3 separate regions of the Homo sapiens genome follow, and regions 2 and 3 are each linked to region 1. Evidence: fine-mapped expression QTL. A gene starts in region 1. Each other region holds a variant in brackets. All regions are shown on one strand. Distances are between the middles of the regions.

Evidence for each region. PIP is the estimated chance that this variant, and not a neighbour inherited with it, causes the effect. A credible set is the group of variants that fine-mapping cannot tell apart.
Region 2: its variant is the best candidate, but not a certain one, in a credible set for the expression of P2RY13 in whole blood (TOPMed, PIP 0.58).
Region 3: its variant is the best candidate, but not a certain one, in a credible set for the expression of P2RY13 in whole blood (TOPMed, PIP 0.66).

The regions. Positions count from the first base shown.
Region 1 is chr3:151,325,866-151,332,585 of GRCh38, reverse strand. P2RY13 (purinergic receptor P2Y13) reads left to right here and starts at 3,037. Exons shown (of 2, transcript NM_176894.3): 1 at 3,037-3,105; 2 at 3,579-6,274. The coding sequence starts at 3,058. The coding sequence ends at 4,595. The region is part of intron 16 of MED12L (mediator complex subunit 12L); the gene reads right to left.
Region 2 is chr3:151,393,731-151,398,730 of GRCh38, reverse strand. MED12L (mediator complex subunit 12L) reads right to left here. Exons shown (of 45, transcript NM_001393769.1): 39 at 3,864-4,075. Among named protein-coding and RNA genes, the nearest start is that of P2RY12, 11 kb to the right of the region's middle. The variant A/G (reference allele first, on the strand shown) is at 2,927.
Region 3 is chr3:151,251,732-151,258,451 of GRCh38, reverse strand. All of the region lies in intron 16 of MED12L (mediator complex subunit 12L), which reads right to left. The region is part of intron 1 of P2RY14 (purinergic receptor P2Y14); the gene reads left to right. Among named protein-coding and RNA genes, the nearest start is that of P2RY14, 23 kb to the left of the region's middle. The variant A/G (reference allele first, on the strand shown) is at 3,861.

The sequences.
Region 1 (6,720 bases):
AAATATTAAATGTTCCAAATAGCAGTGAATTTATTGCCTATCTCTAGCTACATGTAGATATTTTCTACTATTGTTCTTACTCAGAAAAACAGATTGTTACATTAATAAAAAGTATAACTTATTTCAGCTTATTATTACCACTTTTAGTTTACCACTTTTAGTTACTCTTGTATGGAATTTTTAAAACAATTTCACATAATCTGAGAAAGTACCATGGTATACTTTGATGGGAAGTAAAAGTCTTTTCTAAGAGTATAGAAGTATAGGAGTTCCTACTTCAATTTTCATCCCAAATGAAAGCAAATACTTCCTCATCTTTTCACATATTATTTATATGGTACTGGGCCTTGGACTGTCAATTTTGATGCAACTGAGAAATCCCAAATAAGACTACAAATGGAAATAGTAGTTTATTCCTATCTGGCTAGAGACTGATTTCTGTGACTTTTCATTTTATCTTCTTTGTATCCCTTCTGATCACACTGCTTTCACTCAATTTACATTGGCATAAAGTTTCACAAGTCCATTAAACATTGTGGCTGATTGTTTCCTTCTCACACATCAGGAACTTTCAGCTCAAGAACTCCAGAATTTGGCAAACAATTCCACTGTCACCCTATCTATGGCTTAATCGGAGGCAAGAGAGTGAGGCAGGTTCCAAGCATGGGCTCTGGAACCAGACCAACTGTGTGACTTTACGGCAGATTTGGGTTGCATGATATGGGGAAAATGGCTTAACTTCTGCATTTCCTTTTTTCTCAACTCTAAAAATGGGACCAATCTCTGGGGATTGTTAAGGATTAAATAAGATAATATAATCACTTAAAACAGTATAGCTAGTGTGACTTTACTGATTTTTAACTACATTTCCTTAGAGCCCTATAGGATCTTAAATGTTTAGTTTATTCCCATTTGATAGGCTCCTAGCCTCTGGGATCTTTCACTGTATCTTCTTTGATTCTTCTCTCCTTTCGTGAGACATCACCATATGTATGCACAACATTCCAATTTTCTTTCAATTTCATTTAACAAGAAACCTACATGATACCTACCACATGACAGACATTATTCTAAGCACTGGTGAATGTTCACTCATTTTATTCTTTTAACAACACTGTAAAGCAAATACTATTATTTATTTTTATTGTAAAGATAAGGCAACCATTTCATAGTGGGCATAAGCAGCTTGCCTAAGGTCATAAGAAAAGAAAGAATTGGAAAAAGGAATTGAGCCCAGGCACTCTGGCGCCTAAACATTCTGCTGAGCAGCTTCTCAGCTGTGTCTTCAAGGGCAAAAGGCCTCCCCAGCAGGCAATAGTGCTGCTGTAAACTAAGGAAAAATCAGCTAATACATAAGAAGCACAAACACATAGAAATGAATGATCTATTGGATATTTACTATAGTCAAACACTTTGACATCTACCACATTTAAGAGACTCTATTTCCATAACTCTAGAAACAGGCACTGTAAGTCAGTTCCTCTTTGGAAAGTTTCCCACACTTCAGTGTTTTGAAATTTGACCAAGAAGTGATTTCCAGTTTTCAGATTATGAAATTATCCTGCACAGAATTTATCTTGCTTAAAGAAAAACTATTCCAGATCTTCCTTTAGATTATGGATTTGGGGCTATAGGAAAATTTACAATTAATTTTGTAGGTTAAATTTCTCTACTTAAGAAATAAAGGATTTTTTTTCCTCTGCTGAAGCAAACAAAAAGATATACATTTATGTTTAAGACATACATGTATGTTCTATTAATGAAATCTTGAATCTATACTCCCAAGGATTAATTTATTTCAGTCAAAGAGAAATTTTTCAAACTGTGCCGTTATTGGGTAGTCTAATCAAAACTATTAGACACTGTATTGCCTCATATTTTAAAATGTCCAGGGGGATATTAAGTTTTTCTTCTCAGAATTCAAAGCCAAGTCACCCAAAACTTTGTGATCAACTAACACTAGTCTCGTCTAACTCCATGGTAACACTTGTGGCAAGAAACATGAAATGAAACTCACCATGAACTCCACATCCTCCGTAAGATCTCCTAATTTCCGCTTTTCCTATGCCTACCTGGCAAGTAGATTTCTGCCATGGACAACAACTTTCTCTATGCAAAAGCACCATTACATCTTTCAAACTTGAAGAGAATTAAAGCAAAAAAAATGCACAGATATTGGCCCAATGTTGATTGATGAAATTCCTGAAGTCCTCTGCACTCGAAATACACCAAATACAAAAAAGATTTCTAAAAATGGCCCTCTACTAAGTGAAAGAGTATAATATCTCTATCTGGATTTGCAATTCATTCCCATGGCAATGGGACTAAAAGCCACTAAAAGTGGCTAACATTTTTTAGTGCCTCCTATATGTCAAGCACTATTCCAGGCAACCAATTCATTCTTAATAACACAGTGTGTTAGATACTATTTTCAAACCCATTACACAGATGAGGAAATTGAGACACAGAGCTGTTGAATCATTTATCTATAATCTAATCCCAATTAATTGGTGGAACTGGGATTCTAACTCCAAAAATCTGGATCTAATAGTCTTCACCTCTCAGAAAACATCATGTTAACTCTCAGAGATCCCCAAACCAGAAGACTAAGTCAAATACCTACAAAAATAAACATACCGTCTTCCTGAACACAAATTACTGGAAAATCCAGTTTACAAGGATACAGAAGATTATTCTGTCTGATTTTAGGTAGTCTTATTCTCCTACTTGATTGTAATTTGGGACTATTTTCTTCATCTTTCTACTTTCCACTATATACAAGAGGCACTCAAAAAGTTCACTGAACATGCAGATCAAGAAGATAAACTTCAAGAAAGTTATGAAGAAATTTAAAGATAATTGCAAATAAGCTTCTTTATTCAAGTCACAGATTAACAGTATGAAAGTTTGAACTAAAATAGAGTATTAGCAAATGTCCCAAAGGTCTAAATATGAAGAGGTTCTAATGGGTCACATTACATAAGTAAAAATAAGGAAGGAAATCCACTATAAGAAAGCAGAACATTTGCTTCACATGCTCATTTGTAGGCTGAACTAATGACTGCCGCCATAAGAAGACAGAGAGAACTGAGTATCCTCCCAAAGGTGAATTTCAATTTTTGTTATTATGAGTGTGCTTGCTTATATAAAAGAATATGCTTAAGGGAAAAAAGGTGCTTTAAAGTTAATATTCTACAAACCATAGTTTATGAGCATAAGAAATTACATAATTTACAGCAATCTGATGTATTAGTAATAATAATGTATTATTATCTCTTAAACAGTGTTTTGTTTTATGGCTAACAGTAGCACCTGTGAATGAGGCAGAACCTGTTATTTGGATTTCACAAGGATGTGAAAGTAATGGTACTGTTAAAAGTACCAAAAATGTATTATATGCTTTAAAAATTCTAGCCAGAAAACAGTATTTTCCTTTTCAACACATCTATTGAAAGTGTTGGATAAATGCAGGATGTTAATATGCTATAAACATAAAGTCTGTTTTTAAAAAATAGCATTTGAAAATCATGAAGGGCTTTTTGTTTTCTTTTGTTTGTATATATGTTTATTGGTAACAGGTGACACTGGAAGCAATGAACACCACAGTGATGCAAGGCTTCAACAGATCTGAGCGGTGCCCCAGAGACACTCGGATAGTACAGCTGGTATTCCCAGCCCTCTACACAGTGGTTTTCTTGACCGGCATCCTGCTGAATACTTTGGCTCTGTGGGTGTTTGTTCACATCCCCAGCTCCTCCACCTTCATCATCTACCTCAAAAACACTTTGGTGGCCGACTTGATAATGACACTCATGCTTCCTTTCAAAATCCTCTCTGACTCACACCTGGCACCCTGGCAGCTCAGAGCTTTTGTGTGTCGTTTTTCTTCGGTGATATTTTATGAGACCATGTATGTGGGCATCGTGCTGTTAGGGCTCATAGCCTTTGACAGATTCCTCAAGATCATCAGACCTTTGAGAAATATTTTTCTAAAAAAACCTGTTTTTGCAAAAACGGTCTCAATCTTCATCTGGTTCTTTTTGTTCTTCATCTCCCTGCCAAATACGATCTTGAGCAACAAGGAAGCAACACCATCGTCTGTGAAAAAGTGTGCTTCCTTAAAGGGGCCTCTGGGGCTGAAATGGCATCAAATGGTAAATAACATATGCCAGTTTATTTTCTGGACTGTTTTTATCCTAATGCTTGTGTTTTATGTGGTTATTGCAAAAAAAGTATATGATTCTTATAGAAAGTCCAAAAGTAAGGACAGAAAAAACAACAAAAAGCTGGAAGGCAAAGTATTTGTTGTCGTGGCTGTCTTCTTTGTGTGTTTTGCTCCATTTCATTTTGCCAGAGTTCCATATACTCACAGTCAAACCAACAATAAGACTGACTGTAGACTGCAAAATCAACTGTTTATTGCTAAAGAAACAACTCTCTTTTTGGCAGCAACTAACATTTGTATGGATCCCTTAATATACATATTCTTATGTAAAAAATTCACAGAAAAGCTACCATGTATGCAAGGGAGAAAGACCACAGCATCAAGCCAAGAAAATCATAGCAGTCAGACAGACAACATAACCTTAGGCTGACAACTGTACATAGGGTTAACTTCTATTTATTGATGAGACTTCCGTAGATAATGTGGAAATCAAATTTAACCAAGAAAAAAAGATTGGAACAAATGCTCTCTTACATTTTATTATCCTCGTGTACAGAAAAGATTATATAAAATTTAAATCCACATAGATCTATTCATAAGCTGAATGAACCATTACTAAGAGAATGCAACAGGATACAAATGGCCACTAGAGGTCATTATTTCTTTCTTTCTTTTTTTTTTTTTTTAATTTCAAGAGCATTTCACTTTAACATTTTGGAAAAGACTAAGGAGAAACGTATATCCCTACAAACCTCCCCTCCAAACACCTTCTCACATTCTTTTCCACAATTCACATAACACTACTGCTTTTGTGCCCCTTAAATGTAGATATGTGCTGAAAGAAAAAAAAAACGCCCAACTCTTGAAGTCCATTGCTGAAAACTGCAGCCAGGGGTTGAAAGGGATGCAGACTTGAAGAGTCTGAGGAACTGAAGTGGGTCAGCAAGACCTCTGAAATCCTGGGTAAAGGATTTTCTCCTTACAATTACAAACAGCCTCTTTCACATTACAATAATATACCATAGGAGGCACAAGCACCATTATTAAGCCACTTTGCTTACACCTTAAGTGTGTACAATTCAAGTGTGAGAATGCTGTGTTAACTATTCTTTGGAATTCTCCTTCTGTCCAGCAAATACTCTAATGATGGTTAAACATGGCACCTACTCAGCAATGCCTTCCTGGACCACAACCCCTATCCCCCTGCCCCACCCTCCTCATTAAAAACAAATACTTCTACTGTTTGGGTGTGTGATAGGGTTCTCAATGCAGATCTCCCTTTTCTAGTTAGCTATATTCTTGACTGCATCCGCTAAAAATGTTAAAGCTTCTTGAGAGACAGACATGCCAGATTTTCTTGGTATCTCCCATAATACGACCTACAGTCCATGGTCTACAGATGTTTTAAATAGAATTGCTATTCTCGATACATACAAAGACGTAATTGCTGACCCACAATCAGTAACATCCATATTGAGAGATTTTTCAAAGGATGGTGACCCTGCTTGTATTTATTTACCTTGGTATTTTTTCTTGCATCCTTCTGTGATTCAAAAAAGTAAAATGTGGCTTTCTGAAATGATGGATAAGAGTCTACATCTTCTAGAAAAAATACATAAAGGAGTAGTTAAGCTCTGTAAATGTGCCACGAGCTCCAACACGACCATCGTAGGGTGAAGCCCACGTTTTCTTCCATGGCCTCAAAGGCCCTAGAACTTGCCTACCTTTCTGGCCTTACCTCCTAGCTACTTATCCATCTCTTGAACTTTATACTCTTGTATAAATTTCTAACTTTCAGAAAATGCCATACTCTGTTTTGGCACCACACATGTATATTTCCCCCTGGTACACTTGGAAGACTCTTATCCATCTGTGAAACCCTATGTTGTCATCACTTGGTCCATGAAATATTACCTGGCCAATATCCCACCATCACCTCAAACCCAATCACCCCCTCCTCTGTATGCTGTCACACCTATATTATTAAACTTATCACATTGCATTGTAATTACTTCCTGACCTTTGTATCTACTCTTTTAGTAACTGATGTATATATCTGAAAGGAGAGATTGTTTCATTGTGCAATCAATAAATGTTTGATAAAATAAAGCCCATTTGGTTTATTTTATGTATTAGAGAAGCAAAAGGGAAGCCAATTCTCATTGATGTTTTTATTATCCAAAGACAACATAAATTTCTTGAAATGAAAGCTCAAGCTCTGTCCACTCTCCTATAACATGTATGTAGGGCCTGAAAATTGTGGTGCTCCTGGGGTCACTAGTGAATGATCATGACAACAGGAGGATCATGGAATAGCCAAATCCAAAGTTTTAAAGCTATTGACAAAATCCTTTAGCTATGCACTATTGATAATGGTTAAGTAAAATTTGTAACTGTGAATATAACAAACACCTTTAGAAAGTACTCTTGATGTCTGATCTTCATTCTCTCTGATAAAAGAATTAAATAATCATTACTATTAGGGATGCCACTAAATCCATATTACCTCTACTGAGTACATTACACAATCACAAATAGACTATAATCATGTAAAT
Region 2 (5,000 bases), 67 kb before region 1:
GATAGGACTACTGTATTTTCCTAGATGAAGACTGCAACCAAGAAGAATGAAAACAGGTTTCTTGCCAAAACATCTTTCTGCATGTCCATATGCACTAAAGCTATAGGGAAATATACTCAATTATAACAATTATTACATCAAATAATCTCATTAAAATACTTAACAATATCCATGCTATTCAGCACTTGTTGTCTAGGTACTGTGTTAAACACTGTCTTAACACATTCCTGAGGAAATATAAGACAATCCATGACAGAATATTCCATGACTGACTGAAGCTCATGTACAATCTCTGCAGTGGAACTAGAGGGTTATTTTATGGAATTCTAGTTTTCATTGTGTATCACTGAAGGCTGGATGGTTTCTGCATATGCCAACTTCCCCCACTAGACAGAAAGAGGATAAGGGGACTCTGTGAGGTCTTAGATATATCCTGAGTTCAGGAATTTATGTTTACCTTTCCCATTTAGGTTTCCAAAACAACTGTAGCAGACGTCACTAGAAGGGTCAGTTTCTGGAAGCACTGGAAGGGAAAGCTATGAGAAGGGTGTGTGGATAAAAATCAGAATGCTGAGGATTAAGGCTACTAAGAAACTTTAGGCTCCTGGAAGCAACTGTTCAAATCTTACATTATTCATTTGATACACAGCTCACAGATTGTACCGTGTGCTTAGCAGATGAAAGGATAATACAAAATAGTATACAGCCCAGTGTCTGACCTCATAAGAAAAGGGGGTAACCAGTGGGTTACTAGAAAACTGTCGTAGGAAGCAGTCACATCCAAAACCTGGAGAAACTCATCAGCCTATAAAAGCATCTGCTGAATTCCAAAATCAGTTTTGAAGGTTAATATAAATGGAAATTCTCTAATATGTTTGTTATATTTAAGAAAATGGACCTCTGGAATAAAAACATATCTACTTACTTTTCTCTACAAGAAGCCAAAAAATGAAAAAGTAACTATATTATTAGTCCTTATGTAGCTAGAGAAATTCATATCATATGTGGGTGAGTAACCTGAGAAAATCTTCCTGCCATAGCACGAAATGGTCAGTACTCACTAGAAAAGCAAACTGTGCCCAGCAACAGATATTAAAACAATTGATCAATATTGCTTACATTCCATATAATTCTGTCTTTAGATTTTGAAGGATTATCAGAAGAATTTTTTTCTGCCATAAGACCATATTTGCTAAATTCCAGTTATATTAATAGCTTATACATGATCTATTGAGAGGAAAGGCACTAACATTTCCTCAGAACCTCCTAAGTACAGGTACCATGACGGATGCTACATGCAAATCTCATTAGCTCGATGTACTACAGGATCACTGTACATCGTGACTGCATAATGTATGCATTTCTCTTCCTTTAAGAATACTATTTTCCTCAATTATCTAACACTTGAAGAATGATGAGAGAAAAAGACATATCCTACTTGTGAAAGCCCTTCAGAGACTCCATAGTTAAGTTTCAACTGTTAAAAACAATATGAAGTGAGTCTGAGATGAAGAGGTGAATACTGTACAATCACTGTTATGAAGTGGAGCTTTTACTATTTGAAGATGGCATTTCTGGTCTTAAAAGTTTAAAAAGAGAAGAATAAAGAAAAAAAATCCAACACTGTAATGGAGTTAGCACAAAAGAATCAGAAAAAGAATGAAATCACAATTAATTCCCATTGGTACAAGCAGTACAACTGTCGGTGGTACAAAAGGATACAGCCAGGTATTTTTGGTAGGAGAAAGAAAAGTAATGGTGTCATCAAGGTACACTTCCCCAAATATGCAAGGATATCTTTGATTACATGTAGATTATTCAATTAAATGCTTTAAAAAAATTTCTAGCTGAAATCGTTTGTCATGGCTTATATCAGGAAGTGAACCTTTTAAAAACAGGTATATTTACCCATAATGGCCCAGTGGGCTTTTCCCTAGTGCTAGGAACAACTTAACAAGTACTTCAAAGTTAATTTGGCAGTAACAGTTTGAAAGTGGGCTATAAATAAGAAAAACTATGCCTTGTGATAAAAAGGTAGATATGAAAAAATGAATTAAAGTGGCAAGTTTTACTTTACTTTATTTATTATTTTATTTATTTTTCTTGAGACGGAGTCTCACTCTGTTGACCGGGCTGGAGTGCAGTGGCGTGATCTCGGCTCACTGCAAACTCCACCTCCCAGGTTCAAGTAATTCTCCTGCCTCAGCCTCCCAAGTAGCTGGGACTACAGTGTGGCATGCTCTACCATGCCTAATTTTTGTATTTAGTAGAGACAGAGTTTCACCATGTTGGCCAGGTTGATCTTGAACTCCTGACCTCAAGTGATCCACCTGCCTCAGCCTCCAAAAGTGATGGGATTAGAGGCGTAAGCCACCACGCCTGGCCCTAGGCGTTATTACTTTGAAAGAGGGCTAAATTCATTCTAGTGGGATGGTTTTTCAACTTCTAGTGAAATTTTTTAACTCAAAAATGATTTGAAGCAATAGTATAACTCTATTTTTGCTGATTCCCAAAAAAGAGCTAAAAATCCCAATGAGGTTTTAAATGGCTCTAAACATGTTGCTTATTTAGGCAAATTAAATAATTTTTTTTCATATTTTAATCAAATGTTCATCATTTATGTGCAAGCAGCAGCTTAGACTCATCCTTTCTGACACTCAGGGAGCTAAAGCAATTAATTGTTAGAGGTCAGGAAGAGACAAGCACATGGTGATGACTGTTGCTTGCGTCATCATACAGTTCAATTGGTTTCTTCTCTCTTGTCCTTATAATGACTAACCTTGCCATCACCATCCACCAAAATCATCACTAAGTGGCCCAAATGCAGGAAGTGCCGTAAATTACACAACGGAGATATGCCTAGAAAGTTATCCAAAAGACAAAGAATATTTTTTAAAGCATTTGAATTTCTTGCTATGTTGAAAGT[A/G]TTATGGTTATTCTTAGAGCAGGATGTACCTGTAGATTCGCTATTTCCATGTGAGGATCACGAAGGTACCTAACTCATAGAGTTACCCTGGTATCTTAAGATAGCTAATACATCTAAAGTGCTTAGAAATGTTTTGGCATATAGTAAGTGCTCTATTAGTGTTAGCTATTATTATCAAAATACTGCATGACCATTTTAGAAAAGCTAGAAAATACAAGTATACAGAAACTAGAAAAAGAAATCCCCATTCTCACCTCACACTTTATTTTAATGTACAGACGCATAGGTGTTTCATGAGTTTATACTAAGTGCTGATGTTTTCTTAAACATGGATCACTGTCTTCTATGAAGAACATTGAGTTATAGGCCACAAAAATAGAAATATAAATCAAGAATTAAATTGAATGTATCCAGATCCTGACTGTTGTTTATAATTTATCTGCTCTAGACCTTATTAAATATACACTAGAAACAAAAATTAAAGGCAGGGCACTATCAGAGAAAACCTAGGAAACATCAGGGCTTCAGAGACATAACCTCACAGTAATAAGTCTAAAAATAATACATGAACACAAGAGCTGAAAGTAGTACAGAATATGGTGGTAATTATAATAGAAAAATGAGGGCTCAGAGAAGGTCACCTCAAGGATAAAAGGCCTGCTTCTTCTAATTGACCAAAAGTCATCAGCCCTTCTTTTTGTTTTAAGGTATACTTTTAATAAACCTAAGACATATCAAATTCTTATTTGAGCAATGATAACAGTAAAGTACAATGGAGGAAAACTATTTACAAGCCTGTAACAGAGAGATAGACCTGCACTCACACAAGTATACAGGGATATGCATACAGAAAGAATATGCTACATATCCCAAACTTATCCCAAGCTAGCAGAGGTAATAAAATGCAAAGGACTCCATTGCTGGGGTCTGGACAAACCTGTTGGAAAGGCCGAGTCTGGGCTTGCCTGAGAAGTCGCTGTTGCTGCTGCTGCTGCAGAAGCTTCATCTGTATCAACTGCTGCTGCGATGTGATTGCATGAAGAGAAGGCGGCTGCATCATGGCGCCTGAGCGCCGCTGTAGCATGTTTGACAGAGCTTGTTTGGTGTTGGTTGGGACAAAGGAGCCTGCAGGGTCCAATCTGGAGCCACCTACAAAAGCAACCAAAAGGAAACACTTTCTAACTACGTTAATGCAACAGGTCTTTTTATGTATCAAAACACAGAAATTTCACCTTCTAAGTCTCACTTTATGAACAAAGTAGAAAAAAATGCACTGTCCCACCTGCCACAAATATTATAGACCTGTTGAGTTGCATAACTTACAAAAGATGAGGGGAGTGATGTAGAAGTGAATTATACTACTTTAATTTCATGGAGGTCTTCAGTTCATAAATTGAAATGTGTAAAACATACAGTTGTTGGCATAATTTCATAATTACATGGGTTTTAAATTAGGCAAGGCCCTCAGGAACATATTACTTGTATAAAACATACTGCCTTTGTGATGTATTTTGCCAAGTTCTTAAGCCATTCATATAAATCCTTTTGTACTTTTCATCAAATCTGAAGCTCATGTCATTAAAGTCTTTTCACCATGGCAAAATGAAAATGCCTGTTTTATAGCAGAGGCATGAAAATACTTTAAAATCTTGAAATGCTTGCAAACTTCAAGTACTATGATTGTAATGACAAAACATCTTTTTTGAAGGCTAAAAATCAAATAAACAAGCAACTATTATACCGATGCTTAAGAAACCACAGGAAATCCTTTACATATTTGTATATTATAATTTGTCACGCGCATTTAAAAGTTAGGGAAAAAAAAGTCGACATTTGCTGGCTTCACAATAAATGTAAATTCTTCATTCACCAAAAATAGTCCTTGATACATGTAAATGAAAAAAACCTCTACATAAGCACCTCACAAAAGTTGTTTTATCTTTTCTATAAAGCAAGGTGTATGATGAAAACAAACATTTTAAAGCTGTTTTTTTGGAAAAACCCACATTCTTTTAAAGACTCAGTGCCACAATCAGCAATACAATTTATGAAGTTGTGAAAGGAAACTAAAAAT
Region 3 (6,720 bases), 74 kb after region 1:
CAGATAGCATTTCATGAATCAGTCTTTTTATTTTATTCTTCAAGAAAATAACAGAAAATTTTCTTCACCTGGTTTATACACAATGACCACATTAGAAAGTACTAAAAATTATTTTGTCAGCAACAAGACAACAAACAGAATTAAAGAAAGTGGGAAGAACTAGTGAAATTATATTAGAAAGCAACAATTGTGAGGGTCAAGAGTACTTGATTATGCCCGAGCTAGTTCCCATCTAGCTTCCAGATCTTTCTAATCCATCTCACAGTGGTCTCATACCATATCGGAACTCCCACTTTGGGCCTGTGGAAGAAAATGAATCCCAGGAGTTTGCCTGTAAATGCCTTGGAGCAACTCAGGGACCCACAGATTGGAATGGTATAGATACTGGGCTTGCACCTTTACTAATCAGGAATATCAAAAATAAATACAGCTTTATGCCAGAAAAATTGAACTTGTGGCCAAAACAAATTGTTTCTTATGTTATCTATTTACAAAATGCCTAAAAGAAGCTAGAGAGGGAAGGTGGGGAAGGAAGCAGCAATATTAATTGCCATTCAAAGGCTGTAGTAGGGAGAGAGAAGGAGGAACTTGGAATATAAAAATTTGTGTGACTCTCATCTAAGCCAAGTGGTCCACATGACACTTGAACAAAAGGTGGTCTAAAATGTAAGCCAGAGGAAAATTGTTGTGAGATATAGCTCCATAAATACCATGTTTACACTGAATTTCAAAAGCATGTTTTCTCCAAAAAATCATCTCTTGAAGATGGTATGAAAGCCCACACAATGCAAATCTTGAAGCTCCTTTCAGTTCTCCATATACGAAATAATACTGATGACAGACAATATTTATTTTTCTCTTCTATGTGCCAGGCATACAGAACAATATTCCTCACAACAGTATTCTGAAGTAGATATTATAATCACTTTTGTACAGATTCTCCTAACGATGAGGGTGCTGAAGCACAGAGAGGTTAAGTAATGTGCCCCATGACACAAAGCTAATGTGTAACTCAGCCGGTATTCTAACTAAGGCAATCTATTCTGGAGACAATGCTCTTAATCATTCAGATATATTGTTTCTCACATAAACAATTTAAAAAAACAGGACTACAGGTCAACAAATGTTTCAACTGTCTAAGAGATTAATACGCAGTGGAAAGGTTCTGAAAATATTTAAACTACAACATGCCAACTGGCATACAGTAAACTGAGAATTACACTGAAGCTGAAGAATAAGTGGTACAGAGAAAGAAACTACATAAATATGCTTTCCAGGCGAGGTCACTTCAAAATCATTCCAAATGGTTCTAGAAAACTTAACAGCTCAAAAATGTCTAAAATCTCTCATAAGCATTTCTTTTTAAAACTACACCATTTCTTGTATCTCAGAAGCAGCTGTATCGTGCTGCTTTTCTGTTGTTTTCAAATCCATGTGCTTCTAATACAGGGTTAAGTATCCTAACTCCTGGCAAATCATACATACTTCATATGTGGACTTGATAAGTGATATTTGATTTGGCAAATGGCAAGAGATTATTTAGCAAATTCAAACACTATTTTCCCCATGACCCATTTAAAAAAAAAAACAACAAAAAAAAAACCTCTGTCATTTCCCACCAAGAAAAAAAAAAAAACAGACTGGATTAATAACCAGTCAGCTGAACTAACAAAGTATTAACAAAATGCTCTGCTTGTATGAGTTTTTGTTCTCCTTACCTAAGAAAAATAAATGTTTCCTGCCTTTACTATTATTTAGCATCTCTTAGATCTTAAAATACGAGAAACTCATCTTTAGTGTAATAAGCTTTTGTCTTTCCTGTAGGACAGCAGTCTGTTGTGATTTCTGGCAATGGAGAGGTACTTTAGGACCACATGTTTTGCCTACATTAGGAAAAAAATAGCAAAACCCTAATTTCTGTGGTTGACAAGAGGGAAGAAAGATGGAGCCATCCTCATTCACACTCCCTGTGGAGACAGGGTGGGACTGGCAATGGGGACCAAGGGAAAGACCACCAGCTCTGGTTGATCCTGGATGTGTCTCCATCCCTTCCTTACTGAGACCACAGAGTAAAGCACAGATGAGAATATCTCCTATTACCTTAGGCATGTTGAGGCAAAAATGTAAAGCTCCGAGAAGCACTCCATCATGTGTGCCCCATCCGTAATAGTTTGAGTTTACCAGGGTACTGCATATGAGATCTTATTTCCTCTTGTATTAGATTTATAATTTGAAAATACTTTCCATGAGTTATGTATTGCTATGTATCTAAAAGAGCCTTCCTATAACCACAGTGGCTGGGTCAAAGACCTACTCAAATTTGGCTCTTTCCATAACAATTAATATTCATTAAAAACACAAAGCATAGCACTGTATTTCTATCTAGCATATGTTGAACCATGCAGTTTTGAAAGCATTGTAAAGGAACAATTAGCCTGTCATAGTAAAAAGAGACCCTACCATTTACTGACCTTAGAGCTAGGCATTATAGTAAGAAAATACACCTTACGTGATTTAAACTTTCCAACAACTTTAATAGTGCAGGTAGTACTAGACTCTTTTTGCAGATGGGGAAACAGATTGAGAGAGATTACATTACCAGCCTGAGGTCTCCTGGTTTATACAAGGCAGTGCTGCTGGCTTGTATATCCAAATTTAACTCCATATGCCACGTTATGTAGCATTAACTGCAAAGAATCACAATTAATCTAATCCTGACTTTGTCTCTATGCTGGAGTAAACAAGTTCGCTGTATTTTTTCTTCATTTGTCCTGGATAAAACACTAGCTTAAGATGGCCAAAGGTTTCATCTCAGGGGCCAGTTTTGACAAGACTTTCTAAGCTCCACTATAGAAGGGAAGCTGCAGGAAAAATCGCGTGTGTTCAGTTAGAGATGTCTGAAAAGGCCCATAGCAGCACAGACCCTCCTCCCCAGCCATGGCAGAACCAAAGTTGGTGGGCATTTATACCCAAACCGCCTGCCCGCACCCCCAGCCCCCTCCCCCTGGCCTTTTCTGCTGAGCAATTTAACTGCCGTGGACTTTCCGTCTACTCTACTGGATGCTCATTATCTAGAAACTCCCTCCCCCAACTTTTGAACTATGGCAAAAGCTAAGGTAGATATTTAAGTCACACTGCATGTCACACATGAAGGGTACCCATTAGTATAAATCCCAAAACAGCATTTTTACAAACAAATGGAAGTCACTGTATCCCTCTCACATCCCCTGTTATATGGCTGATAGTTCTATCCTCAGATTGCTCCTTCTTACATGAAATTGGTCTCCCAACAGCTTCATCAATTCCATAAGTCAATCTTCAGCCTGCCTATTTGTGACTCGAAAGTTCCTATCTTTTAAGCGCTTCTCTACATTTTTAAATGAATACAAGCAAAGGCCTCGCTTATTATGAGTATAATACTATATTTATATTGTTAAGTATAATATAAAGTTTCTGGGAAAACTACAAAAAAAAGAGCAGCAAGGCAAAGTATCAGAATCTGACTCAGACTTTTGGTAGCAGACAAGTCTCAACTATTCCGACAAGAATGAAAAACACAGTTTTGGAAGTGTGTATATATATCATGTATGTGACATTTATAAGACAGCAATAATTGCAACCTGCCAAAAGCAAAAGGCCTAAAACTGGTAAGCTAGAGGTCTCTCCGGTGAAATGTAACACAAAGTTATTAATAACAAGCACATTTGTCAACACGAATCTCCTCTGCCTGTTGAGTTGTAATGCTAAGAAGCATCTATGCTGCGAAAGTTTTATCATATGCATAAACATGCACTTGGACTTCACATTTCTCTCTAAATGCAGCTGTTCACAAAAGTACTTTTAAGCTTACACATACACGT[A/G]TAGCTAAGAACTAGATTAAATAAGGTTTGGTTCAAATTATAATATTGAAATAATAACAGCTAACATTTATATAGCATGTTTACATATCTCAACTAATTATAAATGGGAAAATGGGCAAATGGGCAGGCAGAACCCAGAGGGAAGCCTGCCCTCATTAGACCAAGACAGCAAGGTTTCCCCTGGTCACTAGATGAAATTAGGGAGTTGCAATCCTTCAAACGTAAATGTTAAGCCTCTGCTATAAATAATACTCATATAGCTCTAGTTACGTGAATGAAAGATGCTGATTTATCCAAAAATTGTGGACATAATTATCTGGTAAAGGGAAACGTGCACAGTGAGCTAAATCCTCATCTTCCACACAAGGAAGTCAACAGACACTATCAAAAGCCAAGAACCTCCAGTTACATAAGAAATACAGGCACTAATACCTAAAAATAGATAAAAGGAAAAAGAGGTGGCTACCAGGGCATAAGAAAAGGGTATGGACTTCTATTTTTTTCATTATATGTTTTTTTAAATTGTTTCTTAAAGTACACAAATGCATAACTTTGATAAATCTTAAAAGTTTAAATTAACAAAAAAAAAAAACAAGAAAAAATCAAAACAAAAAGAAGGTATATCAAATGTATCCATTCCTTGGACTAGAAGAAGAAAAAAAAAGTAGTGGAGGTCCTCACTGATTAAATTAAATCACCTTCTTGGATATGAAAGACCTTTTTCAGTGGAGCTAAGTCTTAGGAGTCAGGTGTCCATGGATTGCTCTCAGCAAAAGGACAATGTTTCAAGCCCAGAAAGTAATCCTGGACAGCCTGGCAATATGGATGAGAGAGGCTGCAAAAAAGTCACCTGCCCCACCCCATTCCCCAGACAAGCCAAATGACTCCATGAATGAGACTGGGGCAACATCAGCAAAATACCCACCCACCCCCTCACAAAAAAAGAAAAAATCAGAAGACACAGCCATCACCATCTGTGATACAGTACAAAGCCTGAGGGGTGGCCTAAGTAGAATTAAATTAAGCACTATAGGAATTCAGAGAGAGGAAAACCATTCATTCTCAGTAAGAACATAAAGGAAAGCTCCACTAAAGTTGAAATTTAAGAGGGCCCATGCCAGGCTTAGGAAACGGCCCAACAAAGGCCAGAGGAGGGAGAACAGAAGGTGTGTTTGGAAATGAACATGATCTAAGCCATATTAAAATGTGTATCTTATGCTGCTGTTGCTCCACTCTAAACTGGAGTGAGGGGTAAGAGCGGAAGGCCCCTGGGACAGTCAATGGTTTCCGGCACAGTGCAAAACTTGAGTGCAGTATACGTGCCTCTCAATTAACTCATTTATAGGAATATACTCTCCATATTTGTTGGCTTTTCTCGGAACAGGCTCTTAAATCTCAGACACTGACATTTATATCACTATACAGGGTGCCTGTCATGACCCCAGATCTCCAGAAGTCCTTAGCTGCATGCTAGTGGATTCTGTTAATACATTTTCCTTACAATTTCCCAAGAGTGTTGAACTCAAAAGACAGGGACTTTAGTTTAAGGCAACATAATTTCTCCCTTTAGCTCACGACATGTAATATTTATTTTAAGGGCAAGTTCCCTTAAAATAAATATTCTCCTAAATGTATACACATTCCCTATGTCATTTTAATGTAGTACATGCTCCTTTTAACACTACAGTCATTGCTTTAAATCAATAAAATTGGACTAGGTTTGATCCACACAACCCCAAATACCAGTTTTGGTTAAAATACACACATTTTACTCAAGGTTTTCTAGATAAGTTCTAGAACTTATCTAGTTAGTAGATAAGTTAGTAGATTACATATGAACAAACCTACTCCTGCATAGCAAACTGAATATGTACAAAAGACAGTCTATTTGCATGCATCATAAGCCTTCAAAAATAAAAATGAACATATTAACTTTTACTTTTTTACTTTCACTCTGGCCTTTATGAACATGTTTAGAAGTATCATTTACGAAACACAAGTATAAGTAAAACTTGAAAGAGAAAATTAAGGAAGCAACACATCTTTACTTTTATATTCCTTTAATTAAATGAATAAAAATGTCAGGTGCCAAAGATGCAAAATTAAGACACTGCCCTGGCTCTCAACAGCTCACCCAATCTAGTTGGGAGAAACAACTGGCAGACAATTAAAAATCAGTATTTATGCCAGAAGTTGCAATTATTTTCTATGAAAAATCAGATCTTAGCGATGACCATGAGCAATAGGATATGAATAACTCCCATGAGCTTAGTGTCCCAATAATGGAACACAAGGTATAAACAAGTTAAGCACTACTCCTGGTTGTACCTCCCACAGTATTTAATACAGAAGGTTACTAATAAATTATTAGTTGGGTGACTGGATAAACAGATGGATAGAAAGATGAATGAATGGAGATATTAATAGTACTTTTTGGTAACACAGGAAGGTGAGTTTATCCTGCATAGGGAGGGAGGGGATGGGTGGTCCAGGAATAACCTCCCATAGGAAAGGGTGGGCCAACTGCATCTGAAAGTAGTATGTTTCCACAGGGATAAACACACAGGTTAAATAGAACTCAGACAAATTACACAGTTATGTAATAATTTCAAGGTATGTTAAAAGAATCAAAATCTGTGACTTCAAAGCTATTTTTACTTAGGATGAGGGTAAACATTTAATTTTTAAGGTGATTCCATGTACATAAATATCAGATATAAACAGATCAGGTGGCATGTGGATATAATAAAGACTGAGAAGCAAGTACACAAATAGCTGAAATTTTTTAAAATGCAATTCAAATTCAGAATAAGCCAGGTGAAAGAAGAGAAATTATTCCAGAGAGCTGTTCTAGGCAGAG